Homo sapiens: one gene and its partners. The protein of the gene in region 1 purifies or fractionates together with the protein of each later gene. This does not show direct contact. Each region holds a gene or a part of one and is shown in the gene's direction. Other genes may lie near its edges.

What was found.
Region 2: the proteins of MAFF (region 1) and RTL6 purify together in Homo sapiens (affinity purification with mass spectrometry; 3 studies listed by BioGRID and IntAct, with this or other methods). This does not show direct contact.
Region 3: the proteins of MAFF (region 1) and CALCOCO1 purify together in Homo sapiens (affinity purification with mass spectrometry; 3 studies listed by BioGRID and IntAct, with this or other methods). This does not show direct contact.
Region 4: the proteins of MAFF (region 1) and GIT2 purify together in Homo sapiens (affinity purification with mass spectrometry; 3 studies listed by BioGRID and IntAct, with this or other methods). This does not show direct contact.

Annotation. Positions count from the first base shown.
Region 1 is NC_000022.11:38,204,348-38,212,176, forward strand, and holds part of MAFF (transcription factor MafF), read left to right. Parts: intron 1-7,829. UniProt on the Homo sapiens protein: Since they lack a putative transactivation domain, the small Mafs behave as transcriptional repressors when they dimerize among themselves.
Region 2 is NC_000022.11:44,494,635-44,502,375, reverse strand, and holds the start of RTL6 (retrotransposon Gag-like protein 6), read left to right. Parts: upstream 1-4,142; 5' UTR 4,143-4,332; intron 4,333-4,564; 5' UTR 4,565-4,819; coding exon 4,820-5,539; 3' UTR 5,540-7,741.
Region 3 is NC_000012.12:53,717,195-53,725,023, reverse strand, and holds part of CALCOCO1 (calcium-binding and coiled-coil domain-containing protein 1), read left to right. Parts: intron 1-276; coding exon 277-379; intron 380-1,240; coding exon 1,241-1,431; intron 1,432-2,840; coding exon 2,841-2,999; intron 3,000-3,408; coding exon 3,409-3,557; intron 3,558-5,194; coding exon 5,195-5,285; intron 5,286-7,829. UniProt on the Homo sapiens protein: Functions as a coactivator for aryl hydrocarbon and nuclear receptors (NR). Recruited to promoters through its contact with the N-terminal basic helix-loop-helix-Per-Arnt-Sim (PAS) domain of transcription factors or coactivators, such as NCOA2.
Region 4 is NC_000012.12:109,986,079-109,993,907, reverse strand, and holds part of GIT2 (ARF GTPase-activating protein GIT2), read left to right. Parts: intron 1-2,147; coding exon 2,148-2,281; intron 2,282-4,105; coding exon 4,106-4,218; intron 4,219-4,839; coding exon 4,840-4,945; intron 4,946-7,829. UniProt on the Homo sapiens protein: GTPase-activating protein for ADP ribosylation factor family members, including ARF1.

The DNA of each region.
Region 1 (7,829 bases):
ATCAAGGAAGGCTTCCCTGGGGAGGTGACTAGTGTGCTGAGTCTGATAGAGTGGTGGTTGTCTGTGAAGCCCTTGAAGGCAGGAGCTGTGATTCACTTCAGGGTCTCCAGGGCCCAGCACAGAGCCTGGAACATAGTAGGTGCTTCTTGGATGTTTGCTGATTGAATGAATGAGCCCTGGATCCCTGCCCTCTAAGAGCTCCACAACACATGGAGAAAAAGGCCTGGGAACCCCAGAGAAACAGGAAGCCAGGGCAGGGGCTGGGGGAATCTTGAAGCAGTCTCCCAAAAGCGAGCAAATCCTTCAGGACTCAGGCAACTTCCTCCCTCACACACACAGGCATGCACTGCCCGCTTGTCCCTTTGGGAAACATTCAGGGATAGTAGAATTTGCTGTCTGTTCATTCATCTGTTAGCATACGATCCTGGGAGAGAGTGGACAGGAATACGGTTGAGGCCTGAGGACCCTACTGTGTTGGCTTGCGGGGAGGCTGGCATTGCAGGGTTTTGAAATGGGCCAAGCACGGACAGGCTCGTGGGTTTGTGTCAGTAGTGATTCCTCTGACAGCTCTTGGGGGAGGATCAATGATGGGGATTGGAGACGGAGGGCAAGGCAAGAGGCTGGTGAGCAGGCGGTTGTGGTCATGGTCCAGATGAAGGAGGAAGTGGTCTGTGGCTGTGCAGGTGGAGAAGAGGGCTAGTCTGATAGTCTGATAGTTTGTGTCTCATGCCCCCACCTCCAGGAAGCCTTCACCGCTTTCCTTTCCCTACCTCCATTCTGCTGGTGGTCTTGGAGCTCTGGGCCAGAATCTGAAACTCTAAACTCAGAGACAGTCATTGTTGGAAGGTACCTTAGGCTCGGAGGACGTTTGGCATAGTGGGAAAACTGAGGCCCAGAGAGAGGGAGTGCCGTACCTGAGGCCACACAGCGAGTGTGAGAGGGTACCTGAACTGGGGCTGGAACCCCAGGCCGTTGCTTCTCTGTGGTGCTTGGTTCTTCCAGCCTTGCTCCCCTTCCAGCAGGGAGGAGGCTCCAGCAGTGCTGACTGCCAAGAGCTAGGAAAACACATTTTTTCCCTGTCCTCACAGAGCGAGCAGAATGGCTCAGCAGCCAGAAAGGAGCCCATGCCAGCGGGTGGGCCTTCTACAGGATGTCTCTGGAGTGGACTGGTGGGGCCAGGGAGGGGGACGTTGGAGGGTTGTGGCTGCTGACTGGACAAGGCAGTTGTCAGTCCCTCAAGAGTCACCTCTCTCCTTATGCCTCCAGAAGACGTCATGAACCTGCAGACCCTGGAGGTCAGCTCTGCTGGCTTCCAAGGGAAGAAGCCAGGGAGAGGTGGTGGTGGCCGACATAGAAGACAGAGGACCCCTGGGTTCCAGTCCGCCACGGCTACCAAACAGTGGCTTGGTTGCCTCAGGTGCTGAACAGGGGATCGGATCAGCTACTATTTCTCAGGCCCAGGGTCAGCCAGCCTGGCAAAGGCAGAGGACCCAGGCCCCTTGGCAGCCCCTGGCCTGGGGTTGGCAGCGGAAAGCCTGAGGTTACCAGAAAGTTCCCCCTTCTTGTGACTTTCCCCCTGTGATTGCCTGACTGCTGAGCTAGGACATTCCTGGGCAAACGTGGGTGCCTCAGCTGACATCCAGGATGCGGTTGAGGGGGCTGAGGCTCGGACAGGAGGGCATGGAGGAGTGGGGGAAGAGCAGGTTCAAAACCTTCCTAGCACCTGAGGGTATTTACAATCACAGCCAGCTTCCGCTATTATCAAGGATAGGGAATGGCTGATGGTTCCATCTCTCAGGCCTGGTCTGGAGGCAGTGTTGAGGATTCTAGGCTGTGTCCAAGCTCAGGAGAAAACAGTTCTGTGCTGAGAAAGACTCAGGGGCTGTGGCCTGCCTCACTGGGAATTGGTGCTGTGTGTGGTTAGTGATGTCTCTGTTGCTTGTGGATAGTGGGATGATGGTGAGATGAGGTGATCTTTCTTGCCTATGCCTCCTTTTTTTTTTTTTTTTTTTTTGATGGAGTCTCGCTCTGTTGCCCAGGCTGGAGTCCAGTGGCTTGTTCTCAGCTCACTGAAACCTCCACCTCCCGGGTTCATGCAATTCTTCTGCCTCAGCCTCCCAAGTAGCTGGGACTATAGGTGTGCGCCACCACACCTGGCTAATTTTTGCATTTTTTTTTTTCTTTAGTAGAGACAGGATTTCACCATGTTGGCCAGGCCGTTCTTGAACTCCTGGCCTCAGATGATCTGCCCACCTTGGCCTCCCAAAGTGCTGGGATTACAGGCGTGAGCCACCACGCCTGGCCTTGCCTAAGCCTTTATATTTTACACACCAAGATTATTGTGATTATTCCCACTTAGCAAGGAATCCAGGACTCAGGAAAAATGACTTGTGCATGAGGCCAGACTGTGCCTCTGAGGTTCTGTATCAGCCGCAACACCCAAAGGGCAGTTGATTAACTTGCGTGGGGAGAGGCTTCCCTTCTCCCATTGGGTCTTTCTGTGTAGCTCAGGTGGCCAAGCATCACTGCACGTGCCAGCTCCCCAAACGGCTGGTAAGGGGGCCTGGATACTTAACTGTAACTTGCAAATCGTATCCCTAGCGGGCCCAACACAAATCCTGGAGAATCAGAGCTGGGGTGGCCTTGGAAACTGGCAAGTCCAGCTTCATCTTCACAGGGCTAGGGAAACAGGGCCCAGGGAGGTCGCCCTGCCAGGGCCACACAGGGAGGAGGTGTGTGGCTCCATGTGGCCTCAGGCCTGAATTCTATTATTATTATTATTATTATTTTTGAGATGGAGTCTTGCTCTGTCACCCAGGCTGGAGTGCAGTCGCGTAATCTCGGCTCACTGCAACCTCTGCCTCCCAGGTTCTAAGCGATTCTCCTGCCTCAGCCTCCTGAGTAGTTGGGACTACAGGTGTGTGCCACCAGGCCCAGCTAATTTTTTGTATTTTTAGTACAGACAGGGTTTCACTGTGTTAGCCATGATGGTCTCAGTCTCCTGACCTCATGATCCGCCCACCTCGGCCTCCCAAAGTGCTGGGATTACAGGCATGAGCCACCTTGCTTGGCCATCTTTTTTTTTTTTTTTTTTTTTTTTTTTTTTTTTTTGAGACAGAGTCTCGCTCTGTCACCCAGGCTGGAGTGCAGTGGCGCGATCTCAGCTCACTGCAAGCTCCATCTCCGGGTTCACGCCATTCTCCTGCCTCAGCCTCCCCAGTAGCTGGGACTACAGGCGCCCACCACCACACCCGGCTAATTTTTTTTTTAAGAGGCGGGGTCTTGCTTTGTCACCCAGGGAGTGCAGTGGCGGGATCACAGCTCACTGCCGCCTTGAATTCCTGGGCTCAATGGTTCCTCCTGCCTCAGCCTCCTGAGTAGCTGGGGCTATAGGTGTGCACCACTGCACCCGGCTAATCTTTTTATTTTTTGGAGATGGAGTCTAGCCATCTTGCCCAGGTTGGTCTTGAACTCTCAGGCCTGAATTCTACCCCATGCTGGCTGTATGAGCCTGGACTACTCTATTGTCCTCTCTGGGCATTACCTCAGGGTTGGGCGAACCAGGGAGGTGACGGTGTGAAGGGACCAGGTTTCAGTCCTGGGCCTTTGCAGCTATTCATTCACACCTATTGTGTGACTTCAGGCAAGTGCTGCCCCTCTCTGGGTCTCTACCTCCCCTTGGGTAAAGGGAGGAGGCAGGACCTGATGGCCTCTAAGGGCCTTTCCTGCAGTTCCCTGTGTGACCCCAGCCAGCTGGGAGATGCTAAATCAGAGCGAGACCCCAGTGCTGGCTACAGGCCTGACCCCTCCTGGACAGACAGCAATTCTAACCTCCCAGCTGCTCACTGACCTCTACAGTGTATACCACTTGATTCCACCAAAACCCTGCGAGGCAGGTATTGTTCCGATCCTTTAGATGGGAAAGTGGAGACCCAGAGAGATGGAGTGGCTCACCCCAGGTCACACAGCCTGAGAAAACAGAGATGCGACTTAAACCCAAGCTTGACTCCCAATCCAGTGCTCCTTTCCCTGTTTCCCACACCCCACCTTTGGGCCCAAAGTCACGTGGATGGGATCCCCTCTGCTCTCTTCCCATTCGCCTAGCATCTGTACTGTCTCTGCCAACAGGCCCAAGGAAGCAGCTGGAGAGGAGGAAGAATTAGAGACAGGGCCAGGAGGTACTGAACTACGTTTCGGCTTGGAACCCGGCTTGGTGACAAGCTGGGTGATGGCGTCAGAGACTCTGACCATCCACCCTTCCCCAGTGCCTGCTCCCTGCCAGGTCTTGAGATGGGTGGCCTCAAGCACCCAGAGCTGACTCAGCCTCTCCCTGTCTGGTGGAGAGACAGCAAGGAAATACAACCCATTACACACAGGGGTGGGGGTCCCTAACAAGTCCTAGGGATCAGGGAGGGCTTCCTGGAGGAGGAGATGTCTGCACCCAGGGCCGAAGGATGAGTAGGAGTCTGCCAAACAAAGTAGAGGGGAGTGAGGGGAGAGAAATATCATGGGGTGGGAGGTGGCTCAGAGGCAAGAAAGCGCGGGTGGGAGGAAGTGAAAGAAATTCTGTGTGGCTGGAGCACAGAGTGGAGGTGGCAGTGGTGGGAAATGGGCGTGGGGCTGGACACACAGGGCCTGGGGTGCTGGGAGGGTGGGTCTGGACTCCATCCTTAGGATAGTAGGGAACCATGGAAGGTTTTTTTTTTGTTTGCTTGTTTGTTTTTGTGTTTGTTTTTGAGATGGAGTATCACTCTGTCGCCCAGGCTGGAGTGCAGTGTCGCGATCTCGGCTCACTGCATGCTTCACCTCCCGGGTTCACGCCATTCTCCTGCCTCAGCCTCCTGATAGCTGGGACTACAGGTGCCTGCCACCACACCCGGCTAATTTTTTGTATTTTTTAGTAGAGACGGGGTTTCACCATGTTAGCCAGGATGGTCTCAATCTCCTTACCTTGTGATCCGCCCGCCTCAGCCTCCTAAAGTGCTGGGATTATAGGCATGAGCCACCTTGCCCAGCCGAACCATGGAAGGCTTTAATCTGGCTGGTGGCATGGTCAGATTCGCGTGGTGCAAAGATTGTCCAGCTGCTGTGTGGGAATGAGCTGAGACCAGCAGGGAGGTGTGCTGGGACCTCCCCAGGTGTGTGTAGGGTGGTGAGGGTGACCACTTAAGAGGCCTGCATTGGGTTGGGCGTGGTGGCTCACACCTGTAATCCCGGCACTTCAGGAGGCCGAGGCAGGTGGATCACCTGAGGTTAGGAGTTCGAGACCAGCCTGACCAATATGGTGAAACTCTGTCTCTACTAAAAATACAAAAATTAGCTGGGCGTGGTGGTAGGCGCCTGTAGTCCCAGCTATTCAGGAGGCTGAGGCAGAGCTAATCGCTTGAACCCAGGAGGCGGAGGTTGCAGTGAGCTGAGATCCTGTCACTGCACTCCAGCCTGGGCGACAGAGCGAGACTCCATCTCAAAAAAAAAAAAAAAAAAAAAAGGGAAAAAAAAAAGGCCTGCATTGAAAGGTAGGATCGGTGAGGTTGACATGTAAACGTCTCCAGATAGTATCTGAAAGGTCAGGGTAGCCAGCAGATCTCATATGACTTTTCCAGGTAGGATGGGAGTGCACAGAGGCCCCCAAGGAGAGCTAGGTGGGCAGCCAGGGCCTGAGCCCCCTAGGATTTGGAGTGCTAGGCAGGGAAACTGAGGCCAGAGCCCAGGCTAAGCCGGCATGTTCAGCAGTGGGGGGTCGCAGCTCAGGGGTCACCCCATGAAGCCACTGGTCTTCACCGTGGATCCGCACAGGGGTCTAAAGCTGCCTGGGTCCTGACCTGGCACTCTGGGTCCACCCAGCTACCCCCAGCGAAACCTGGGTGACCCCTAAGACTCTCCTGCTTAAGGGCCACAGTGGCTGCCCCTGTCAGGGGATCTCTGCAAGCGCCAACTTCCTTCTGTCCCACTCCTTCCTTCCCTGTGAGCTGCCAGACCCCCTGACTGTGTGGGCTGGGAGGAGCTGGGGAGTTTCCTGAGAAGCCCTGGACTGTCCCCACCTTGGCCTGAGTCACACTGAGAACTCAGCAAGGATTCCTTGAGTATCTGCGAGGTGCCAGGCGCGGTTCTAGGCATGGGGGAGGCCGCGGTGAATCAGGTATAAGTTCTGCCCTCATGGAGCTGGCATTCTAATCGGGGGGTTGGGAGGGACAGACACTGAACAAATAACCACCATATATGTGAGTGATGACAATTACACATGGGGAAACCTGAGGTGGGGAAGGGACACAGGGAGTGTGTGTGTGTGTGTGTGTGTGTGTGTGTGTGTGTGTCCGTGTGTGTATCAGGGGTTGCAAATTCTAAACTGAGTGAACATGAGATTTGAAGAGACCTCAGGAGGTGATGGAGCAAACTTTGTGGATATCTAGGGAACAAGGATGCCAACAGAGGCCATGCGTCGTGGCTCATGCCTATAATCCCAACACTTTGGGAGGCGGAGGCAGGCGGATCGCTTGAGCCAAGGAGTTCAAGACCAGCCTGGGCAACATGATGAAACTCTGTCTGTACAAAAAGTACAAAAATTGGCCAGGTGTGGTGGCATGCACCTATAGTTCCAGCTACTAGGGAGGCTGAGGTAGGAGGACCACTTGAGCCTGGGAGTTTGAGGCTGCAATGAGCTGTGATCGTGTCACTGCACTCCAGCCTGTAACGGAGTGAGTGAGACCCTGTATAAAAAACAAAAACAAAAACAAAAACGCCAGCAGAGGGACCAGCCAGTGCAAAGGCCCTGGAGAGGAGCGTGCATCCTGTGTTGAGGAAGGGCGGGTGTGGCTGAGGCAGGGGAAACAAAAGGAAGCCAAGTAGGGCTGAGGTTGGAGAAGGGATGCTGGGGAGCACTTTCTTTTTTTTTTTTTTTTCAGACGGAGTCTCACTCTCGCCCAGGCTGGAGTGCAGTGGCACAATCTTGGCTCACTGCAACCTCCGCCTCCCGGGTTCAAGCGATTCTTTTGTCTCAGCCTCCCAAGTAGCTGGGACTACAGGCACGTGCCACCACGCCCGGCTAATTTTCGTATTTTTAGTAGAGACGGGGTTTCACCATGTTGGCCAGGCTGGTCTCGATCTCCTGACCTCATGATCCACCCGCCTTGGCCTCCCAAAGTGCTGGGATTACAGGCGTGAGCCACCGCGCCCGGCCACTGGGGATCACTTTCTGCAGCACTTTGTGGGCCATGGTGACAACTCTGGCTTTACTCCAGTGAGCCGTGGGAAGGTCCTGAGAGAGGTGTGACATGAGCTGACTTAACACAGCTACCTGTGTCACCCAGGGGGAAAGTGAGGCACAGAAAGAGTGGCTGACCTATCAGAACCACACAACTAGAGAGCGAGACCACCCCCAAAAGGCCCCAGGTGTGTCTGGCACCAAGGTCCATGTGCTTTCCATTTCTGCACCTTGTCCCTGGGAGACACCCCGGTCCTGCCAGAATGTGTCAGAGGCTGAGCCAACCCGTGAGGTCAACCCTGTAGACAGCTCAAGGAACCAGGACTTGGATCTGGCTTTTGCCCTCTGCTGTCCACAAAACTGGGTGATGCTCTTTCCGATACGGTACGTGTTTATAGGATGCTACAGCTCAGATCACAAAGCATCTTCCTTTGTTTTCTTTTTATTTATTTATTTTTTTTGAGATGGAGTCTCACTCTGTCACCCAGGCTCCCAGGCTGGAGTGCAGTGGCGCAATCTCGGCTCACTGTAACCTCCACCTCCCAGGTTTAAGCAATTCTCCTGCCTCAGCCTCTCAAATAGCTGGGACTACAGGCATGCACCACCACGCCTGGGCTAATTTTTGTGT
Region 2 (7,741 bases), 6.3 Mb from region 1:
ATTCAAATAGGAAGCCTGGCTGTGTTCCCAGCCTTGGGTCCCTATTATGTCTCAGGTCCAGAGCCCGGCAGGCCCACGTCAATACTCAGAAGTTTGTGTTTCTGGACCATTGTGAAGTTTATCTTGTTTATCGATTGGAGCCCACTTATATCCTTTCAATATTTTCTTTGCATATTTTATTGTTCTGTGTTCACAGCCCAGACAGGCACCTCAGGGCATGAATCATAGCTTCATCTGGATGAGAAGCCAAATATTCTTCTCCTGTTTTTACTTTTAAAAGTCCATTAATTTTTATTTTGCTCTATTTTATGGGCTGCCATCTAATTTCCCCTTGGAAGTAAAGTGAAATACAGATAAATTATTTATTTCTTTAAATGTTTTATCATTTCTGAAATTGGGGTGCATCTTATATTCAATGCACCTGGGAATTTAAGATTCATGGTGTCAACCACACTTAGAATTGCAGCAGACACTTCACTAATGTGCCCAGTATCCAGGGGCCTAGACAGACAGAGAGACAGAGAGACAGATGGAGTGACTCCCACGAGTGGATGGGATTCCTCTGTGTGTTTAGAAGAACCTGGAGGGGTAGAAGGCTGCAGGCTCATTTCTGCTTTTGAAGTCATTGACCTCAGTCAAGGTTAACACAGCTCCTGCCCCCATCTGATTTAGAAGGTCTCATGGAAGAAGTTTAAGGACACACAGTCTTCTTTATTTCCCTCTTGCTTCATGCTCTAGAAGTTTTCACCTGGTCACAAAGGGTGCACACTTTGGCACACTGGGGTACAAGTATCCTTTCCAAGTTCTGACACTGTAGTTGTGGGACCAGCCCAAACTGGGCCTACCCTGTTGGTAACAAAATGTCAAGCTGCCTTTTAGGTAGAACAGAGCCCAAAACTGCAAGTCATGTAGCCTGGGCATGTGCCGTAGAAAAAACTTTGACCTCCAACAACACCCAGAACCAATGATTCGTCCTCTTAGAACCAAGAAGACTGGGACATGACCAGAAGTTGAAAACCAGAACTCATTCACAAGCAAAGGGGTCCATCAGCCTGGAAGGTCTGGGGCTAAAATCTACTTTAATATACATTACCACATATGGTCAAATTTGAAGCCCTCCAATCAGACCCTGGCAAGCCAGCATTGATAAATACTTTCTCTTGCCACCTGATCCCTTAAAACTTGCCCCATACCTCAAATCAGGGAGACGGATTTGAGCCCACCTCCTCTCTCCTTGCTGGTCAGTTTTGCAATAAAGCTTTTCTTTTCTCAAAAGCTGGTGCCATATGTATCGGCTTCCGTGTGCATCAGGCAGCAAGACCACTTGCTCAGTAACAACATCCTTATGCCCTAATTCCCTTGAGTGAAAACTGCAGGTCTGAGTGAATCCAGCTCTGTCCCAGGCCTGCCTAAAGAGTGCAGATGGTTCCCAGCTTCAGCCTCCTTGAATACTGTGTCCTCAAAAGACTGGCATACTGGGTATTGTTAACTGAAGAATGACGAGGTTCATAAACCTGGAAAGGAGAGTTTTATTTATCATAAAAGGTTGCACCCTGCAGAGTGGCCATTTGAATAGGCTGGGAAGTGTAGCCTCTGGCCAGAAGCCATAAACAGGCACTTCAAGGGTTGGAAGAGTAAGACAGGAATTTATGTTGATCAGGGTGGCCAAATATACATATTCAATAAGCTACAGGAGGAGTTATAAATATTTATGAGAAGAGAAATATGCACATGTGCAACTGAGCTTCATCCCCCTTCATGGGTAGCACCTACAAAAAATGGCAGTGTTAGCGTGATCTGAAGGTGGAGTTTTCAGCCCTCTAATGTCAAAAGGTGTATCAGAGGACACAAAAGCTTTCACTGCACATCCTCCACAGGCTGGCCAGAACCACTCCAGGGTTGGTGGTCTCTTACTAGGAAAGAATGCTGGTCAGTTGTTGTGTGCCACAAAAAGGGAGGGGCAGTGTCAGATGGTTGGTTGGTATCAATGTTGAAGTCTTTCAAAGAGGCTTGTTTCTGTTTAACTCTTAAGGAAAAAAGCCTAATGGTGGTTATCGGTTATGGAGCGGGGGCAGATAATGAAGTGTGTCCAACCTCCCATCCCATCATGGCCAGGAACTCGGCTTCCCAGGTTTCTCTGGGGTCCCCTGGCCAAGAGGGGGTCTGTTCAGTTGGTTGGGGGGGGGGGGCTTAAATTTTTATTTTTATTTCTCAGTATCTTTTCTCTCCAGCCATGCCAGCTTGAAACTGACCATGCAGAAGGATCACCTAGGTCAAGCTGGGAATCCAGACCCGGAATCAAACAGTTCTTACCCTTTGGCCAGTGTATTAGTCTGTTTTCACGCTGCTGATAAAGACATACCTGAGACTGGGCAATTTACAAAAGAAAGAGGTTTATTGGACTTACAGTTCTGTGTGGTGGGGAGGCTCACAATGACGGCAGAAGGTGAAAGGCACGGAGGAGCAAGTCAGGTCTTACATGGATGGCGGCAGGCAAAGAGAGAACTTGTGCAGGGAAACTTCCCTTTTTTTTTTTTTTAATTTTTTTTTGAGATGGACTTTTGCTCTGTTGCCCAGGCTGGAGTACAGTGGTGCAATGTCTGCTCACTGCAAGCTCCGCCTCCTGGGTTCACGCCATTCTCCTGGCTCAGCCTCCCAAGTAGCTGGGACTACAGGCGCCCACCACCACGCCTGGCTAATTTTTTGTATTTTTAGTAGAGACGGGGTTTCACCATGTTAGCCAGGATGGTCTCGATCTCCTGACCTCGTGATCCACCCGCCTTGGCCTCCCAAAGTGCTGGGAGTACAGACGTGAGCCATTGTGCCCGGCCGGAAACTTCCCTTTTTAAAACCATCAGATCTCTTGAGACTCACTCACTATCACAAGAAGAGTGCAGAAAAGACCTGCCCACATAATTCGATCACCTTCCACCAGGTTCCTCCCACGATGTGGGAATTGTGGGAGTTACGACTCAAGATGAGATTTGGGTGGAGACACAGCCAAACCATATCAGCCAGGTATCTTCACTCCTTGGTATTTACTCTGGGGAACCCAGCAGAGAAAAGGGTGGGGATTTATATACAAGTGTAGTTTATAAAACTTTAGCATGGTAAACAAGATAAGGATCTATCAAAAAGGGCATGGCTAAATACTTTGCGGTACAGGAGTTCCATGGACCACAGGCAATAACTGAAAATCATGCTTCTGAACTATCTTTAATAGGAAAATGCTCAAAATTCAATGTGCTGTTATGGTTACAAAATATTCATAAGGTAAAAAATATTTTGTAGAACATATCATAGAAAAATGACTGGATGGAAGTACAGAAATATTACTATCTCTACGTTACATATATATGTATTACTATTTGCTATCTTTAGGTGGAGGGAGTCTGAGTAGTATAAAGTTTTTTTTACTTCTCTTACATCAAGATTTGTTACATTAAATTTATATTCAAATCACAATAAGGGCCTGATGCAGTGGCTCACGCCTGTAATCCCAGAACTTTGGGAGGCCAAGGCAGGCGGATGCCCTGAGGTCAGGAGTTGGAGACTGGCCAGGCCAACAAGGTGAAACCCCGTCTCTACTAAAAATACAAAAATTAGCCGGGCATGGTAGCACGCGCCTGTAATCCCAGTTACTTGGGTGGCTGAGGCAGAAGAATCGCTTGAACCCGGGAGGCGGAGGTTGCAGTGACTCAGGATCGCGCCACTGCACTCCAGCCTAGGCGACAGAGCGAGACTCCGTCTCAAAAAAAAAAAAAAATAAGAAGAACAGTAAATCATCAAAAAAATAAACCCAATGACAACCACAGAAAGAGCCTTGCAAGCCCTCTTGGGAGGAATGACTGGGAGAACACCAGGTACCCGCCCTGATGAAGACGCCGCAGCAACTACAGTCTTCCCCGATTGGCAGCAGCCCGAGTTGGGGGGTGGGGGGGGGTGGGACTTTGTGCATCACTTCCGGGGGCGGGGCAGCGGTCGTCTCCGCACGCGCGGGAGCGGTCGGTATCCATGGCAACCAGCGGGGCCAGCCTAAGGCCCGCCCGCCACCGCCACCGCGCCGGCCCCGCCCGCACAAAGGCCGCGCGGTGACCCGCCCTCTGCCGCGACCCCGGCCCCGCCCCTGCCCCGGCCCCGGCCTGGCCCGGTCCCTGCACCTGCCGGAGGCCGCCCGCCGCCATCGCCAGCGCCGTCGCTTGGCTGCGCTGACCGGGAAGCAGTTCTCGGCGGTCCGCGCGGTGATTCATCGGCCTGGCCGCGTCCCCCGCGCGGGCCATCTTGGTCACGGCCGGCGGCGGACAGAGCCGCGGAGGAACCGCGAGACCCCAGGTACGCGTGCCCCCGGCCCCCTGCCCGGCCGGGCCCCGCCACTGTGGTGGCCCCCAGGCCCGCGGCCGCCAAGGAGCAGCCCCCTTTGTTCTCCCCCGGGCGGGCGCGGGGCGGGCGCCGCGGGGCTTTGTGCAGCCTCGCCACCCACGCGCGGGCCCTCCACGCCGCCCCTCACCCTCCTGCCCGCTAGTCGCAACTGAAACCTTGAAAACATCTTTTCTTAATCCTCCAGGGCCCAGAGCAGGTCCAGCCACCCGTCTGGCTCCGTAGTCCGCGAAGTCTGCAGTAAAGGAGCCGCGTGGGACCGGGGCCGAAGTCCCTAGGGCCTGGCACCGCGTGCCCCTCTCTCGGGCCCTCGGCTTGGGGGTCTCGCAGCGCCCTGCCGTCGTGCACCCCACACTGCCCCCATTTCTACAGGGGCCCACCTGGTCACCACACCCTCTTGGTCCACCCGCGGATCTCAGCGTGTGGCTGACCTCTGGCCAGCATGGTGCAGCCGCAGACGTCCAAAGCTGAAAGCCCAGCCTTGGCAGCGTCTCCGAATGCCCAGATGGATGACGTTATTGACACCCTGACCTCCCTGCGCCTCACCAACTCGGCGCTGAGGCGGGAGGCTTCCACCCTGCGGGCGGAGAAGGCCAATCTCACCAACATGCTGGAGAGCGTGATGGCAGAGCTGACCTTGTTACGCACCAGGGCGCGGATCCCGGGGGCTCTGCAGATCACCCCGCCCATCTCCTCAATTACTTCAAACGGGACTCGACCCATGACCACACCTCCAACCTCTCTGCCCGAGCCCTTTTCCGGGGACCCAGGCCGGTTGGCGGGGTTCCTGATGCAGATGGACAGATTCATGATCTTCCAGGCCTCCCGCTTCCCGGGTGAGGCCGAGCGTGTGGCCTTCCTTGTGTCTCGACTGACTGGGGAGGCGGAGAAGTGGGCTATCCCCCACATGCAACCTGACAGCCCCTTGCGCAACAACTATCAGGGGTTCCTGGCAGAGTTGCGGAGAACCTACAAGTCTCCGCTCCGGCATGCGCGGCGCGCCCAAATCAGGAAGACTTCTGCCTCTAATAGGGCTGTGCGAGAGAGGCAGATGCTCTGCCGCCAGCTGGCCTCTGCGGGCACGGGGCCTTGCCCAGTGCATCCAGCTTCCAACGGGACTAGTCCAGCGCCAGCCCTGCCTGCCCGAGCACGGAATCTTTAAGAATCCGCCAGCACTTGGTAGCGTCTGCAGCCACCCAGGTAGCATACGCTCTTTGCTGTGTAGAAGAAATGCCCATACGACAGCTTTGCCCCTGTTTGAAGACCTCCCTTCTTGCCTCTCCAGACGTGTTCCCCGAGGAGATCTTCCTTCCGTCCTTCCTGGCGCCCTGGTTGCCCACCTTGCCGTGCTTCCTCTTACGTGCTAGCTTTGTACCTATCGCTCACTGCATGCTCGCCTCCCTCTTGCTGGCATCCCGGCCTGTTTCAATGACTACCGCTCTGCTACTTAGGCACAGGGACTCCGCCGCACGCTGACGGACCACGAGGGCTGACCCCTTCCAGCCTGACTTGGTTCATGGAGGCTCCTACTCTGCCCTCTCCAAGCTCCCCTGGCGGCTCCCCACCTGGTTGCCCAGTTCCTATTGATGAGCTCTGGACAGAAAGATGCCCGTTTGGCCAGGCTGGTGGCTTGATGGGTGTACCTGGAGAGGGGGTCTGGCTTCCTGCCCAAGATGCCTCCCAGCCCTGCCAGGGCCCGGTGCAGCGGGCAGGGCCTCATCTGTGCTGTAGTGGTCGAGTGGTTGCTGCAAGGAGCGTAGTTCTGCCATGTCTGGGGGCCAGGTTCCACTCTGCACATGAATATGCAGTCTGGGAGGCCCCACTGCTCTCACTGGGAAGGACCAATGTTGCACCTCTGTTAATGCCTGACTTCAGCTGCTGGTGTTCTGATGGAGCCAGAGGCTTGGGGAATCTGGAACTTGCCTGCTAAATAAGGTCGTGGTGGACTCTCAGCCATTGGGCAGGTCTATCAGGCTGCAGGTTCCTACACACCCACGCCTGAGGGTCATAGCAGGCTAAGGGTGGATACCAGCGACTCCCTTTGCTGCCCAGGATCTCCATGGGCAGTGCCACAGCGGCTGATGCTCAGTCACTCCTGCTTCTACCCCCTGTCACTGATGGCGAGCCTTGCCCAGCTTGAGACCTGTTCCCATCTCTATTCAGGTGCCATGTGGCCTTCACTGCAGCCCTGCAGCCACCCACGCACCATCTGTGGGTCTCCAAAGGCACCTTGTAGCATGTACTCCCCGTGCCTGGGCAATCAGATGGGCTGCCTTTGTCCAAGGGAAAACAGACTCCCTTCGGGAAACATCCTTAAGCACTTAAGGCCGGGGGGGGTGTCTGCCTCTGGCAACCCAGCCAGGGTCTTGGTGGCATTTGTAAAAGCAAAGAGCTGTGGACTGCCGTGGTCCTAGTGTGGTGACAATGCAGCACTGGCATGCATGTCCTCCTTCTGAAGGACCTCATCCTTCCTCACAGGGGGATGACCAAGAAATCATTTTGTGGCTGAGTTTGGCCACGCCCTTTGGACTGTGCTGTTCCGCCATATTTCAATGCCAAATGAACCACATTGACATGACCTGGACCATAGGGCTTCCTATCCTGGGCTCAGCTGCCCCTGTCTGAAGGGTCTTGGCTTGATTGCAGAAGGACAACCTCCGCACCCACCTAAAGACATGTATATGTCTTGGGATCCCAGAGATTGGGTCCTTGGGCCTGGCTTCTTAAGAGTTTTGATGATGCTGGGAAAAGTGACTGCGATTCTGAAGAACCGCTGCCTTGCAAGGTCAAGGACATTCAGTGGTTGCTGGGGTCCGCAGACTACTGCCACCCACTCACCATCAACTCTGTTAGCCCAATTGCCCTGCTGAACAACTGCCTGAATACAGGCTTTAGGTTCCCCTGGACTCCAGCCAAGGCTGTTCAGGTGGGACCATGGTGCTCTTTAAGCGTGATCGGAGGGAAGACACACAGCAGGGCCACCATTCCATGAATGGGAGGTGTACAGATCACTTTCTCTTTGTGCTCAGTTCTGTTCTGTCTCCAGCAGCTATATTGGTAAGACTAGTACCTGCCAGGGAGAGGTGCCCCCAAGTGAAGGGGTACAGTGGCACCTGGGAAAAGGCACCTGGAAGGTTTCCATGTGGCCCAGCCCAGCATGGAAGCAGGGTGGGAACTCTGCTGTGTCGCCAGCGCTCACTCTACTCGAGTGGCTTTTTGAAAGCCCTACCATGTCTGTGTCAGGCCTGTGCTGCTTCACATCCTACAGCTGCCTAGGAAAGGCCGGCCACGCTCCCTGTCCACACACTCCCTGTCCACACACTCCCTGTCCACACACTCCCTGTCCACAACTGCAGCCGGGCCC
Region 3 (7,829 bases), on another chromosome or scaffold:
GATTGGGCTCTTGGATTCTCAACCTCAGGTTGATAGAGAAGAAGAGAGAAAGATGTCACAGATGACAGAGGCCGCCTGTATAACCAAAGCACATATTTTCTCCATCTTAGCCTTGTTCTTTACTGACACATTAGTGTCCCTCCACTTTCCCTTTCTCTTGTCATTGTTGCCACTGTAGCTCCATCCTGCCCCCCTTATTCAACCCCTCAGCCCTTTCTTCCATCCATAGAAGGTAGTTCCATGACCATACCTTTCTCCAACCTTGGGCTTTCACAGGTGGAGGCTGCCTGTGTTCGGGATTACCACACATTTGTGTGGTCTTCCGTGCCTGAAAGTACAACTGATGGTTCCCCCATTCACACCAGTGTCCAGTTCCAAGGTACAAGGGAAGATGGAAAATTGGGAGAGAGGAGCCAAGGGAGTGGAGGTTTGAAAGAAGGTAGTGGGCTCAGAAACATTAAAAGTTAGGCACAAAGGACAAGGAAAAATAAACGAAAATAAATATAATGAGAATATATCCAACAGCGCTCAGCGGATAGAGAATCACGGGATTATCGCAGAATCAGGGACATAGAAACAGAAGGAACTTCAGAGGGCATCTAGTCCCCTGTCCTACCCAAAGAAGGAAAAATGGGGGAGTAAGGAAGAGGGAAAGGTAGAATTATGTGGTGAGAAGAGGGAAAGACCTGGGTTCAAATCTCACCTCTAACACTTACAAGCTGTTTGGCCTTGGGCAAATTACATAACCTCCCTGTGTCGGTTATCTTAACAGTAAAAGGGGATGCCTGGCTTATAGGGACATTACGAGGATTTAAAATGAAAGCTGCAGGCCAGGCGTGGTGGTGCATGCCTGTAGTCCCAGCTACTCACAAGGCTGAGGCAGGAGAATCTCTTGAACCCGGGAGGCAGAGGTTGCAACAAGCCAAGATCGCGCCACTGCACTCCAGCCTGGGCGATGGAGCAAGACTCTGTCTCAAGATAAAATAAAATAAAAAGTGTTACCACAGTGTCTGGTACATGGTACGCACTCACTACATGGTAACTAGCATTATTATGATTATGATAGAGGGGCAGTGGGTTTGGGAAAGAAAGGAAGGAGAGGGACAGGCAGAAAGGAGGGAGAAGAGTATGGCCTGTGGGAGGTGGAGAAGAGAAGAAACAGTATATGGAACACCGAGCAAGGGGCTGGGGCCAAGGACAGTGGATTATTGGGGTCCTGGGTCCATTCTTCTTCCCACAGCCAGCTACCTGCCCAAACCAGGAGCTCAGCTCTACCAGTTCCGATATGTGAACCGCCAGGGCCAGGTGTGTGGGCAGAGCCCCCCTTTCCAGTTCCGAGAGCCAAGGCCCATGGATGAACTGGTGACCCTGGAGGAGGCTGATGGGGGCTCTGACATCCTGCTGGTTGTCCCCAAGGCAACTGTGTTACAGGTGAGAAAAGAGCAACAGAGTTATTCCCAGACAAGGGAGTGGGAGACAGCATTGCAAGAGGACCCTTCCCACCTTACCCTCCCCTCATCTGTGGCGCCAACTAAAGACCTCGTTGAAAGTTAGACAAAGTCCTGCCTCCAGGAGAGTCTCAGTCTAACATAGACATACACGAACATGTAAGGCAGGAAAGGAGACCACCCACAGGCCAGTGTAACTCAGGATTTCATAAGAACTTTTGCAGCCTTCCTTCTCCATGCACTGCATCCTGCCCTATGCCCTAGAGGAAGATCAAAGGGTGGAGAGAGGCTACTCCAGGGAACATTCAGAGAAAGGGGAGCACAGGACCTGCTTCTAGGACGAGTGGGGAGTGAGAGCAGATAGGCAAGGCCCCAGACCTGTACTGTCCAATACCAAAGGCTCTTAACTATATATGGCTCTTGAGCACTTCAAATGCAATTAATCCAAACTGAGATGTACTATAAGGGTAAAATATACTCCAGATTTTGAAGACTTAGTATTTTTTAAAGAGAATGTAAAAGACTTCAATAATTTTTATTTTGACTACATGTTGAAATGATACTGTTTGGGGTTTTTTTGTTTGTTTTTTGGGTTTTTCTTTTCTTTTCTTTTCTTTTTTTTTTTTTTTTTTGAGACAGCCTTGCTCTGTCACCCAGGAAGATGTTTATATCTCACGTAAGTGAAAGATGTGTGAGCTCCTACTCTCTGTTGCGGTTTCACAATCGTGATTCTCATTTGAGCCTTACAACAATTCAGACTAAGGGATCATGTTACAGATGAGGACACAGAGACTTAGAGAAGTTAAGAAGCTTGTTCAAAATCACATAGCTAGCTGGGTGTAGTGGCATGCATCTGTAGTCCCAGCTACTGGGGGAGACACTGAGGTGGAAGGATGGCTTGAGGCCAGGAGTTTGAGGTATGGTATGCTATGGTTGCACCTATGGCTAGCCACTGCACTCCAGCCTGGGCAACACAGTGAGACCCTATCTTTAAAAAAAATCACATAGCTAGTAAAAATTGCACTGAAGATTTGAACCCAAGTCTGTCCAACTCCAGAGCAGATAGGGTAAAATTAGGGGACCCATCCCTTGTGTCTGTGTTCATTGACTTGTGCCACATGAGGGATTCCTGCAATTGCTGGATGAGGAAAGGGCCAGGCCTAGAGTGGGGAGGGGTAAGAGAGATGGGCAATTCAGAGTGCCATGAGCTGGTGCATCTGACTGGGTGGTGGACGGGATTCGGTAGCACACTGAGCATCCCCTTCCTCACCTCTTTATAACCCAAAGCTATGTAACTTCCCAAACCCAAAATGCACCTGGAGAGTGGTGAGGATGGGACCTTAGAAGGGGTACTCCACCAGCACACTCCCCTTCTCCTTCTGCTGCCTGTAGAACCAGCTCGATGAGAGCCAGCAAGAACGGAATGACCTGATGCAGCTGAAGCTACAGCTGGAGGGACAGGTGACAGAGCTGAGGAGCCGAGTGCAGGAGCTCGAGAGGGCTCTGGCAACTGCCAGGCAGGAGCACACGGAGCTGATGGAACAGTACAAGGTGGGAGCTGGGCCAGGTAGGGGACAGGGCCTGGCTGCTCACCCAGCATCCAAAATCTGAACCCAGTGAAGAGGGTGAAGGAGAGATGTTAGTGGGCTTTTACAATGGTTCTGGCATCAAGGAAATAGGTTTAAGGGGTAGTGGCTGGGATTAAACTTGATGTGACAAGAGACATGTTCCAAACGTGTAATGAGACTCAGTTCTTTGAACATAGGAATGCTGGGGTAAGGTGGAGGTGGCCACGTTGATAGGTAAGGGAATGTTCCCTTACAGTTTCTTTTTCAAGGAAGGCAATGTGATAGCCAGGTGGAAGCAGTCAGACCCTGGTGTGCTCTTCCTAAGCCTTTGTTCCACCACTTGAGAGATGAGTCCCAACCTCCCTTTTCTTCTGGGGGAAACTTAATTTCAGGGGATTTCCCGGTCCCATGGGGAGATCACAGAAGAGAGGGACATCCTGAGCCGGCAACAGGGAGACCATGTGGCACGCATCCTGGAGCTAGAGGATGACATCCAGACCATCAGTGAGAAAGTGCTGACGAAGGAAGTGGAGCTGGACAGGTGAGGGGAGTCCACTGACCCCGTCACTTCCTCTCCCTTCCATGACCCCCGCACTCCAGCCCCCTCTCTCAGGCAAGCAGACCTGCTGTCTGCCTCACACGCTTTCTCTTTCCCTCTCACCCTCACTCAAGCTAGTTACTGGGGATACCCTTTTCTGCCGAGCTCTCTACCATCTTTCCAAATGCTATTCTGTATTCCTCCACTTCAGAAATAATCATAGTTACCACTTATTGTACAGCAAAAGCTGAGCAAGAGCTAGGAGTGGAGGATTTGGAAGAAGAGAATGGATGGAAGTCAGTGCAAGATAAGAGAGGATGGATTTCAGATGTGGCCACAGGAAAGATAAGATTAGACTGTGTTCTTACTATTAAGAAACATTATAACTGGTGATCCAGGAATGTTATGGAATCTCTGCCCTGGAAAAAAAAGATGCAAATCATAAACTCTTAGCACTGGGATTGTAAGATATGTATGAGGGTATGTAAGAGGTCACCCTCAGGAGGCAGCCTCTTTAACATTTGACAGCTGTCATTTTTGTATCTCTTGTATTGAGCCAAACTCTCCTCTCCTATAACTTACCAGGGGGTCCTGAGACCTCTGGAGCCACACAGAATAAATTTCTTTCTTCTTCCAGAAAATTGTTTTCTCTACCAAGTAGCATAAATATTAACCACCACCTCCCATGTCCATCCTTCAAATTTTCACCAGTTTAAACACTCTAGTTCCTTATTTCATTAAATGACAAAATTATGTTTCATTTACTACTGGTAGGTGTGATATTTTAAAAAACTGTTTAAAAGAAAGAGGCATTCTATCCAAGGCCCAAAGTAATAAGTGAGTTCGTCTGAGAGGCTTCTTCAGGATATGTTAGTCTCACCCTAGGGAGATATTAGATGTCTACATTCTAAGTCATAGGTTAGAAAAGCAGTGGTCAGATTGAGCATCTGGAAAAGATTAGGGGCTATCTAGACCAGAGGTCAACAACTATGGCCCACAAGCCAAATCTAGCCTGCCACCTGTTGTATATCCCACAGGTAAGAATAGTTTTTACATCTTTTAATGGTTAAGAACAAATTAAAAGAAGAATATTTTGTGACATGTGAAAGTTGTATGAACTTCAAATCTGTGTTCAAGTTTTATTGAAACATCATGCTCATTCGTTTACATACTGTCAATGGATGGTCCTGCACTACAATGGCAGAGTTGAGTAGTTGCCACAGAGACCACATGGACTGCAAAGCATAAAATCTTTACTATCAGGCCCTTTACAGAAAGAGTCTGCCAACTTCTGGTCTAGATCAAAAGTTTATAATCAATAATGACTGCCCTTGTCTCAAAAAGACTAGATTCTAGTCTCTTGATTGAGTGAAAACAATGGGAGCCATCAGCAAAACATTCCTTAAAATATTACACAAAAAGATAAGAAAAACTATTTCTGTCTAAATTGTTCTCTAGAACCTGGAATCTTGGTTTCCTGGGGCTTAGAACTGGATCAGCTGGCTTGGGGATTTATGCATCCCAGAGTGAAATGGAGCTCTGGGCCTAGAGCAGCAGCAGCAGAGCACAAGACAGAGGCCTGAGTCCATTCCTTCTCTGGGTGGAGCAGATTGTCTGACATGTCATCCCACCAATCACAGGCTTAGAGACACAGTGAAGGCCCTGACTCGGGAACAAGAGAAGCTCCTTGGGCAACTGAAAGAAGTACAAGCAGACAAGGAGCAAAGTGAGGTAAGGGGCTCAGAGTTGATTTGCTTTCTCCATTGTCCAGCCAGTGTTTGATTCCCTCTCGAGAGCCAGACACCAAAGGGAATAAAAATGTAAAGAAGACATTGTGTGCACTCTACTAGGGAACATAAGACATATACCTAAATCAGGATTAGTCAGAGTGGAAAAGTGGAATATAAGAGTGTCACAAGAGAAATTTTTTTTGTTTGTTTTTTGGAGACAGAGTCTTACTTTGTCTCCTGTGCTGAAGTGCAGTGGTACGATCTTAGCTCAGTGCAACCTCTGCCTCCTGGGTTCAAGCAACTCTCACGTCTCAGTTACCTGAGCAGCGGGGATTACAGCCATGTGCCACCATGCCCAGCTAACTTTTGTATTTTTAGTAGAGACAGGGTTTCACCATGTTGGGCAGGCTGGTCTCGAACTCTTGACCTCAAGTGATCCACCCACCTCAGCTTCCCAAATTGCTGGGATTACAGGTGTGAGCCACTGCGCCTGGCCTCAAGAGAAATCTAATAAAGTATTGTGGAGCTCCAGGGAGGTGTATGAGTACACATCTTGTTAGAGACATTAGAAAAGTCTTTTTAAAATGGGTGTGGAGGCCAGGCACAGTGGCTCATGCCTGTAATCCCAGCACTTTGGGAGGCAGAGGCAGGCGGATCCCCTGAGGTCAGTTCAAGACCAGCCTGGCCAACATGGTGAAACCCCATCTCTACTAAAAATACAAAAATTAGCCAGGTGTGGTGTCAGGTGCCTGTAATCCCAGCTACTCAGGAGGCTGAGGCAGGAGAATCACTTGAACCCGGGAGGCAGAAATTGCAGTGAGCCTAGATCACACTACGGCTCTCCAGCCTGGGCAACAGAGTGAGACTCTGTGCCAAAAAAAAAAAAAAAAAAAAAAAAAGGGAGGGCCATGGCTGGGCGTGGTAGCTCACACCTGTGATCATAACACTTTGGGAGGCCAAGGCGAGAGGATTGTTCAAGCCCAGGGGTTCAAAACCAGCCTGGGCAACGTAGTGAGACCCCATCTCTACAAAAAATTTTAAAAATTAGCCAGGCATGGTGGCATGCACCTGTAGTCCCAGCTACTCAGGAAGCTGAGGTGGAAGGATTGCTTGAGCCCAGGAGGTCAAGGCTGCAGTGTGCTGTGATCGCACCCCTGAACTTCAGCCTGGGTGACAGAGCAAGATTCTGTCTCAGAAAAAAAAGGGGTGGGGTGTGGGGCCTAGTACTTTCAAACCTTTTTAGCAGAACCCTTTCCTCTCCTCCCACCAATAAAGTTTTTAATCTTGTGTGGAATCTCACTGAATAAACAAAAACAATGTTTTATTACTATAAATTTATTTTTATAAATTTGAATGTATAACCTTTACTTAAAAGGTAATGAAAGCACTTAGGTAATTTTGAGGCATACCAAACTTTGAAATGAGAGGCTATCGAAGACTGTTCTGCCAGCCTCAGCAACTAATGTATTTCCGTATTTTATTTTGGTTGTACAATATCAAGAACACCTTGAGTCACACACAAGTAGGTGCAAATAACAATTTTTAAACTGTCCACCTTGCAACTCAGTTTACTCTTCAATTCAATAGAAAATACAGTAGAAACTATTCTGAGCTTTGCAAAAAAATGAATTAACCTGGAAACATATGTCAATTGGTGATCTCCAGTGTGTTAACTTGTGATTTTATGGGTTTTATTTGTTTTGTTTGTTTGTTTTGAGACGGAGTTTCATCTTGTTGCCCAGGCTGGAGTGCAGTGGCGCGATCTCGGCTCACTGCAACTTCTGCCTTCCGGGTTCAAGAGATTCTTCTGTCTCAGCCTCCTGAGTAGCTGGGATTACAGGCACCCGCCACCACGCCCAGCTAATTTTTTGTATTTTTAGTAGAGATGGGGTTTCACCATGTTGGCCAGGCTGGTCTGGAACTTCTGACCTCAGGTGATCCGCCCACCTCGGCCTCCCAAATCATGCCGAGATTGCAGGCATGAGCCACTGCACCTGGCCTTGTGTTGTTTTTCTTTTTTTAACATAATTGTTAATAATTTAGAAGACATTCAAATCAAGTATCTGCAGAACTCCTAAATCCCTTCTTCAGTACCCTGGGTTTATGTGGAAGATTGTTAAAAAACCCTTTGCTCAGCAGTGAGAATAGGTAGAATATGAGTAGACAGAGATGAGTGTGAGGCTATTCTAGGAACAGAGAAAGACGTGAGCAAAGGCTTAAAGGCCAGAACACTCAGGGCAGTTGAATGTGCGGGTGAAGTGTTTGAGATAAGGCCTAGGTTAGACTGTGGTGGATCTTGAGCTTCATTTTTATTCCACAAGCGTGAAAGGCTTTGATGATTTTTCAAGCAGGGGTGACGTGTACTGTACTTATGGCCAGGTGTAGTGGCCCACGCCTGTAATCCCAACATTTTGGGAGGTGAAGGCAGGAGGATCCCTCGAGCTCAGGAGTTCAAGACAAGCCTGGGCAACATAGTGAGACCCTGTCTCATCTCTACAAAAAAATACAAAAATTAGGCAGGCGTGGTGGCACACACCTATAATCC
Region 4 (7,829 bases), on another chromosome or scaffold:
TAACCATGATCACATCTTCTTAAATATTCTACTTTTTTTTTTTTAATGAATCTGGTTCATTTCAAATACATCACACTCTGAGTTCAATTACTTGAAAACTCCATGGAGATTTTCAGTACAGTAGTAGAGTGGTCACATGAAATGTTCAATGTTTTAAGTATTTCCCATCAAAAACTTTGTCCAGTGATCATGAATTTCACGTCTAGAAAATATCTGAATACTGAGAAAATAATTTAGAAAAGATATAACAACTAACATTACTACTTTACTATGTGTGAGGTACTTCACTTATTCTCTATATCCTTACTATCCCGAGATTTGTCATTGTTCTCATTTGAACCATGGTGAAAACACTCAAGTAACTTGTCTGAGATCATTGTGCAAGAAGTGGCAGAGTTGGGGTTCAAACCCTGAACTCCTTGTCTCTAGAGCCAACCCTCTTAACCACCATACTCACTGGCTCCCAGGATTCGTCTTTGATTGAAAGCCCATAACTTTTCATTATATGGTTTGAAAGGGTTTGAATAAACTCTTAAAAAATGGTAAAGATGGTGTACATGCATTTTAGAGATTTTTGTGGACATTGAAGAATTTTTAAATGTAACCCTTTGACCAGGCAGCTTAAGTGGCACCTATTGTCACCCCATTGTGAGTCTGACGAAGTATAGCTCTTTCTTTATTTGAGGTTTCTAGGTATTCAGTTTACTTACCCAGATCCATCCTGCTTGCCAAGTATGAAATTATTCCTTGTTTCAAAGGACAGCTAATGAAGCTCTATGACTTTAAAGGGAAAAAAGTATTATACACACACTAAAAATATTATTCATTTTTATTTTACATCTTTGCCTCTGTGAAGCTGCTGTTATTGCAACTTCTTTTTTTTTTTTCAGATCAGTTGCAGGATTGGACTTGGTAGTTTATGTAAAACAATTAATTGGCTGGGCACAGTGGCTCAAGCCTGTAATCCCAGCACTTTAGGAGGTCGAGGTGAGTGGATCACCTGAGGTCAGGAGTTTGAGACCAGTCTGGCCAACATGGTGAAACCTCGTCTGTACTAAAAATAACAAAAATTAGCCGAGCTGGTGGCACACACATGTAATTCCAGCTACTCGGGAGGCTGAGGCAGGAGAATCGCTTGAACCCTGGAGGCAGAAGTTGCAGTGAGCCGAGATTGCGCCACTGCACTCCATCCTAGGGGACAGAGTGAGACTCTGTCTCAAAACAAACAAACAGACAAACAAACCAATTCATGGACATCATAGAACATTTCCTAATGGAAGAGGCCAGGTTTCCCTGTCCTCAGAACCATAGCAGCTGAGTGATTTTATGATTCTGTAACTCGCAGCTTTCTGCTAAGCATATTGACATGTTGATTCATAGCAGTGAATTAGGACAGCAGTCTACAACATTTACTGCAGAAAATGCTATCTGCATAATTCACTGTCAAAATTATATTATCTTGGCCGGGCACAGTGGCTCACGCCTGTAATCTCAGCACTTTGGGAGGCCGAGGTGGGCGGATCACCTGAGGTCAGGAGTTTGAGACCAACCTGACCAACATGATGAATCCCCGTCTCAGCTAAAAATACAAAAATTAGCCGGGCGTGGTGGTGCATGCCTGTAATCCCAGCTACTCGGGAGGCTGAAGCAGGAGAATTGCTTGAATCTGGGAGATAGAGGTTGCAGTGAGCCAAGATTGTGCCTCTGTACTCCAGCCTGGGTGACAGAGTGAGACTCCATCTCAAAAAAAAAAAAAAAAAAAAAAAAGTATTATCTTGATTTTTATGGAGATGGATCCAAAATCATTCGTCTGTACCCTCTCAATTTGCTTTCTTAGCTTGAATGAAAAAGCATGCATCTGAAATGGTAGATCCACATTAGGGCTACAAACTGTGGCCCTGAACCAGAAAGAAGATAACTGTTTACCCAAGGCTCCCACTGGTGTTTTTAGTCTCAATTAACATTGTACCTAATCAGCCAAGGTAGGTCATACCATCCAACAAGATGACCAGCCTGATGCATTGATGAGCATACTGAAACAAAAATGTCTCCTTTTTCTGACAAACCAAACTTCAGTCATCTTTTGCCATCTGGCGGTATAGCAACCTGCTGGTATCCCTGCCACTGAGATTTCACTCTCTTTCCAGATCCTTCCTGGGCATCAGTAAATAGGGGAACGTTTTTATGTGATGAGTGCTGCAGTGTCCATCGGAGTCTAGGGCGCCATATCTCCCAAGTGAGGCATCTGAAACACACACCGTGGCCTCCAACACTGCTTCAGGTAAAGGATAAGAATTCTCCTGACAGTTGGTAATTTACATTTTAGGGCTCATCATGTTAATAACTTAAATTTCTCCTGGTGTACTTCTTCCATAAGACAAAACTGTTTCATAATTGAATAGAGATGGCATGCCCATCAATGCTATTTACAAATATTATCTGTATTGAATTCAGTAAAGACTTTTCTTCCTACTTGACATAAATCTTGTTCAACAAGCTCAATTATAGGTAGATAGATGAATAGTCATTAAAATATCTTGGTACTGTTGCTCTGTTGACTTTCTAGACTGTCATCGGAAATGTTTTTTTTTTTTTTTTGAGACGGACTCTCACTCTGTCATCCAGGCTGGAGTGCAGTGGCGTGATCTCAGCTCACTGTAACCTCCGCCTCCCGGGTTCAAGCAATTCTCCTGCCTCAGCCTCCCAAGTAGCTGGGATTACAGGCACCCGCCATCATGCCCGGCTAATTTTTGTATTTTTAGTAGAGAAGGGGTTTCACCATGTTGGCCAGGCTGGTCTCGAACTCCTGAACTCAAGTGATCCACACCTCAACCTCTCTCGAAGTGCTGGGATTGCAGGCGTGAGCCACCGCGCCCGGCCAGTAGTCCATCTTTTCTATGCATGATAATGAATGTTTCTGAAGGCTACTGCCTGAGAATCTTTTCTTTAATGTACTTATTCCTGAGTACCTGCTAATATTTTTAGAACATGTTTTTCTGCTTTGATAGCAGCATGGGCTGGGATTCCTCAGAAACTTCTGAAACATTTTAAGTTTTCTTAAAGCTCTTGTTACTAGTCAGAGAGACCAAATTAAATTAATATGTTTTGATTGCATGTAGAATACCCTGTTAAATGAGTTCTTTGTTTTATCTGGAGTCCAATGTCATGTCACCTTTACTTCTATCTTGGGGTACACATTCTTCAAGTTCTCTTGGAACTCAAGGTTAAGTGTGTGTTTTGCCTTCATTTGTCTTGATTACACATTTCACTGAATCTGTGACAGCTGCACATATCCCTTAAACTTGGCTGTGTGAACCAAGGAGCCAAAACAAGTGGGTTTGTATCTCTGATGTGAAAATAACTACACTGCTGTAAAAAACAGATGGGGCTGTTTTAGGAGTCATGCCTTGAAATGAAATTTGGAGATATGATTTATTACTAACTTTTGCTTAGAAGTTTCTAACCGCTCACGCTCATGTGAAAGGGGCTGTTTACTGCTCTCAGGTCTGTCTGTGTTTGCAAAGCCAGATTGTAGTACAGAGTCTCAGTAAAGTCCAGAGATGAGTTGTTTAGAATGCCAGGGTTGACCCTAAAGCAACAATTCCCCAAATGTGGAACCACCAGTGGTATTCAAGACAGATGTAGGTAATACATGTTTTTTTTAATGGTTACATTATTTTACTGTGTATGGGAAAGCTATAACTAGCACATCAAACTGTAGTTGTTTTTACAAGTAAGTGGCTTTAAAGACAAATATTAAGTGAATAATATAGACAGTACATGGGTCATTAAGAATGTTGAAAATAGTGTTTAATTAGGTTTGGGAAACCCTGCTCTAAGGTGTCAGAGTACTTTTTTTTCTTTCATACAGAATAAGAACAGTTCAGTCACACTTTAGGTATTTAACTATCCTACTAGTCAAAGCTGAATCCTGCATATAGATTGATCATCTTTCTCATTCTCAAATCAGAAAACAATGATATGAATGATATTCCTAACAAATGAGTGTTTATAACAGGACTTTGTTTACTCTGTTCAGTCACTGATCCCCATTGAATATTTGTGAAAAGAAATTAAAGTCTTATGTCATCCTGCTTGGTTTTAGATGGTTGAGACCTTGTATAATAACGGTGCTAACTCTATATGGGAGCATTCTTTGCTGGACCCTGCGTCTATTATGAGTGGAAGACGTAAAGCTAATCCACAGGATAAAGTACAGTGAGTGGAATGTTTATAAATACTTTTATTTCTTCATAACAAATGGGGCCCACTGAAAGGAGTGCAGCTATTTTTGGTCAGTCTCCGCAAGGGCAGCAGAGGAGGGGGTTACCCTAGTTGTGCATCAGGTTCTTTGCTATTAGAAATGCAGAATGGGGTGGGGCAGGACCATCTGTTTAGCATGGCCACCCAGCAGGAGTAAGTGGCTTCCTCAGTTGGAAACCATGGCTTGGAGTCTGTAAATGTAATCAGATTTAAACTTATACTCAAATAAGAGGCGATCAGACCAGAAATCTAGGTCTGGGCACCCGTCTGCCTGTTGCCTCACTTATAAGATGGGACTAAATGCTGCTTTCTCCCAAAGTTGCTAAATCAGTTCAGACAATTACACAGAGAAGAGGGCTACTATAAAAAGCAGGTACTCTGGAGTCCCAGCCATTATAATAACTAATGTATGTTTTCAAACTGCAGGTCTTAAACCTTGCTGAAACTTACTTGAGCATTGTTCATTTTATTCTCAAGTGGGGGATGTGGGTCACTTCCTCTTCTTTTTACAGTACAAAGAATGGGGATTGTTGTATCTGAACGAGTGAACTGTTTTCTTTTTTGTTTTTGAACCAGTCCCAATAAAGCGGAATTCATCAGAGCCAAGTATCAGATGTTAGCGTTCGTCCATCGCTTGCCCTGCCGGGATGACGATAGTGTGACTGCCAAAGATCTTAGCAAGGTGGGTCACACCTTTTAAAATCCCTAAAAGAGCGGGCTGAGACAGCATATTGTTTTATTTGAAAAAACGAAAAAAAAGTCTGGTTGTGGGCTTTTTTTTTTTTTTTTTTTTTTTGAGACAGAGTCTCTGTTACCCAGGCGGGAGTACAGTGGCGCGATCTTGGCTCCCTGCAGCCTCTGCCTCCCGGGTTCCAGCGATTCTCCTGCCTCAGCCTCCTAGGTAGCTGGGATTACAGGCGCATGCCACCATGCCCAGCTAATTTTTGTATTTTTAGTAGAGACGGGGTTTCACCATGTTGGCCAGGCTGGTTTCGAACTCCTGAGCTCAGGTGATCCGTCTGCCTCGGCCTCCTAGTGTTGGGATTGCAAGCGTGAGCCACTGCACCCGGCCAGGGTTTTTTTGTTTTTCGTTTGTTTTTTTTGAGACAGGGTCTTGCTCTGTTGCCCAGGCTGGAGTGCAGTGGTGCAATCACGGTTCACTGCAGCCTTGACCATCCAGGCTCTAGCAATCCTTCCACCTCAGCCTCCCGAGTAGCTGGAACTACAGGCGCATTACCATACCCAGCTAATATTTTTTATTTTTTGTAGAGACGGGTTCTTGCTATGTTGCCCAGGCTGAAAAAAGTTTTTAAAGAAAGAAAAACAAAAACTCATTTCTGCACATTCATTAATTAATAGCTTTTTTGTCAGTCGGTTTCGTCTTTAATCTGAATTCAAATGGCAGCCATTCATATAGTGGAGGTTCAGGGCAAAGAGGAAAAGTAAGTCTCTGGAAGGCTGTTTGTGTTTTTCCAATATGGCTTTTAAATTATATTTTGATAAGTTTTTTGTTTGTTTAACTTTGAAATAGGAACCATCTCAGAGTTGTTTCTAGAAGGGACTAGAAAGATTATAGGACAATTGTTTCTTTTTAATAAGGACTAGAAAAAGTACTAAAGGAAGGGGACTTCTTCAGGTTTCCAGGTTGAACAGTAAGTATGATCTTCAGAAAGCAATGTGTGACTCAAAGCTATAGTACACAGAATGGTTTATGATACTTGTAAAACGAGTGAGGTGGTTTTCTTTATGTGGGCCTTCGCATGTTTTTGAGAGATGCTGTAAGAAATGTGCATATTTTCAAAGCGCTGCCTTGGATAAATGCTTACTCACACAGAGCATGAGAACTTACTTATTCAGAACTTTTTTTATTACTTTTTGGCCGGGTGCGATGGCTCACTCCTGTAATCCCAGCACTTTGGGAGACTGAGACTGGCAGATCACTTGGGCTCAGAAGTTCAAGACCAGCCTGGGCAACATGGCGAAACCCCGTCTCTACAAAGAATATAACAATTTTAGCCGGGTATGGTGGCCGTGCCTGTAGTACCAGCTACCTGGGAGGCTGAGGTTGGAGGATGACTTGAGCCCAGGAGGTGGAGGTTGCAGTGAGCTGAGATTACACCATGGCACTCCAGCTTGGACAACAGAGCAAGACCCTGTCTCAAAAAAAGAAAACATTTTCTGCATCTATTGAGATGATCATGTGGTTTTTGCTTTTGCTTCTATTTATTTATTTATTTATTTATTTATTTTTATTTATTTTTGAGATAGAGTCTTGCTCAGTCGCCCAAGCTGGAGTGCAGTGGTGCGATCTCAGCTCACTGCAAGTTCTGCCTCCCAGGTTCATGCCATTCTCCTGCCTCAGCCTCCCAAGTAGCTGGGACTACAGGTGCCCACCACCACACCCGGCTAATTTTTTTTGTATTTTTAGTAGAGACAGGGTTTCACCATGTTAGCCAGGATGGTCTCGATCTCCTGACCTCGTGATCCTCCCGCCTCGGCCTCCCAAAGTACTGGGATTACAGGCAGGAGCCACCGCGCCTGGCCTGCTTTTACTTCTATTGATGTGGCAAATTACATTTATTGATTTGTGTATGTTGAGCCAGCCTTGAATCTCAGCAAAAAAGCCTACTTGATCATGATGGGTTAATTTTTTTATTTTTATTTTTATTTTTTATTTTTTATTTTTTTGAGACAGAGTCTCGCTCTGTAGTCCAGGCTGTAGTGCAATGGCATGATCTTGGCTCACTACAACCTCCGCCTCCCAGGTTCAAGTGATTCTCCTGCCTCAGCCTCCCAAGTAGCTGGGATTACAGGCACGTGCCACCAGGCCCAGCTAATCTTTTGGTTTTTTTTTGTTTGTTTGTTTGTTTGTTTGTTTTTGAGACGGAGTCTTGCTCTGTGGCCCAGGCTGGAGTGCAGTGGCGCAATCTTGGCTCACTTCAAGCTCCGCCTCCCGGGTTCATGCCATTCTCCTGCCTCAGCCTCCTGAGTAGCTGGGACTACAGGCGTCCGCCACCACACCCGGCTAATTTTTTTGTATTTTTAGTAGAGACGAGGTTTTACTGTGTTAACCAGGATGGTCCCGATTTCCTGACCTCGTGATCCGCCCACCTCGGCCTCCCAAAGTGCTGGGATTACAGGCGTAAGCCACCACGCCCGGCCATTTTTTGTATCTTTAGTAGAGACGGGGTTTCACCACGTTGGCCAGGCTGGTCTCGAACTCCTAACCTCATGATCCGCCTGTTTCAGCTTCCCAAAGTGCCGGGACTACAGGCCTGAGCCACTGCGCCCAGCCATGGTGGATTAACTTTTGATGTGCTACTGGATTTGGTTTGCTAATATTTTGTTAAGAGTTTTTTAAAAAATCTGTGTTCATCATGGATTTTGGCCTGAAGTTTTCCTTTTTTGTTGTGTCTTTGCCAGATTTTGGTATCAGGCTGATGTTGGCTTCACAGAATGAGTTAAGGAGGAGTCTCTCCTCTTTGATTGTTTGGAATAATTTTAGTAGGATGTTCTTCTTTGTATGTCTGGTAGAATTCAGCTGTGAATCTCTTGAACTGGGGAGA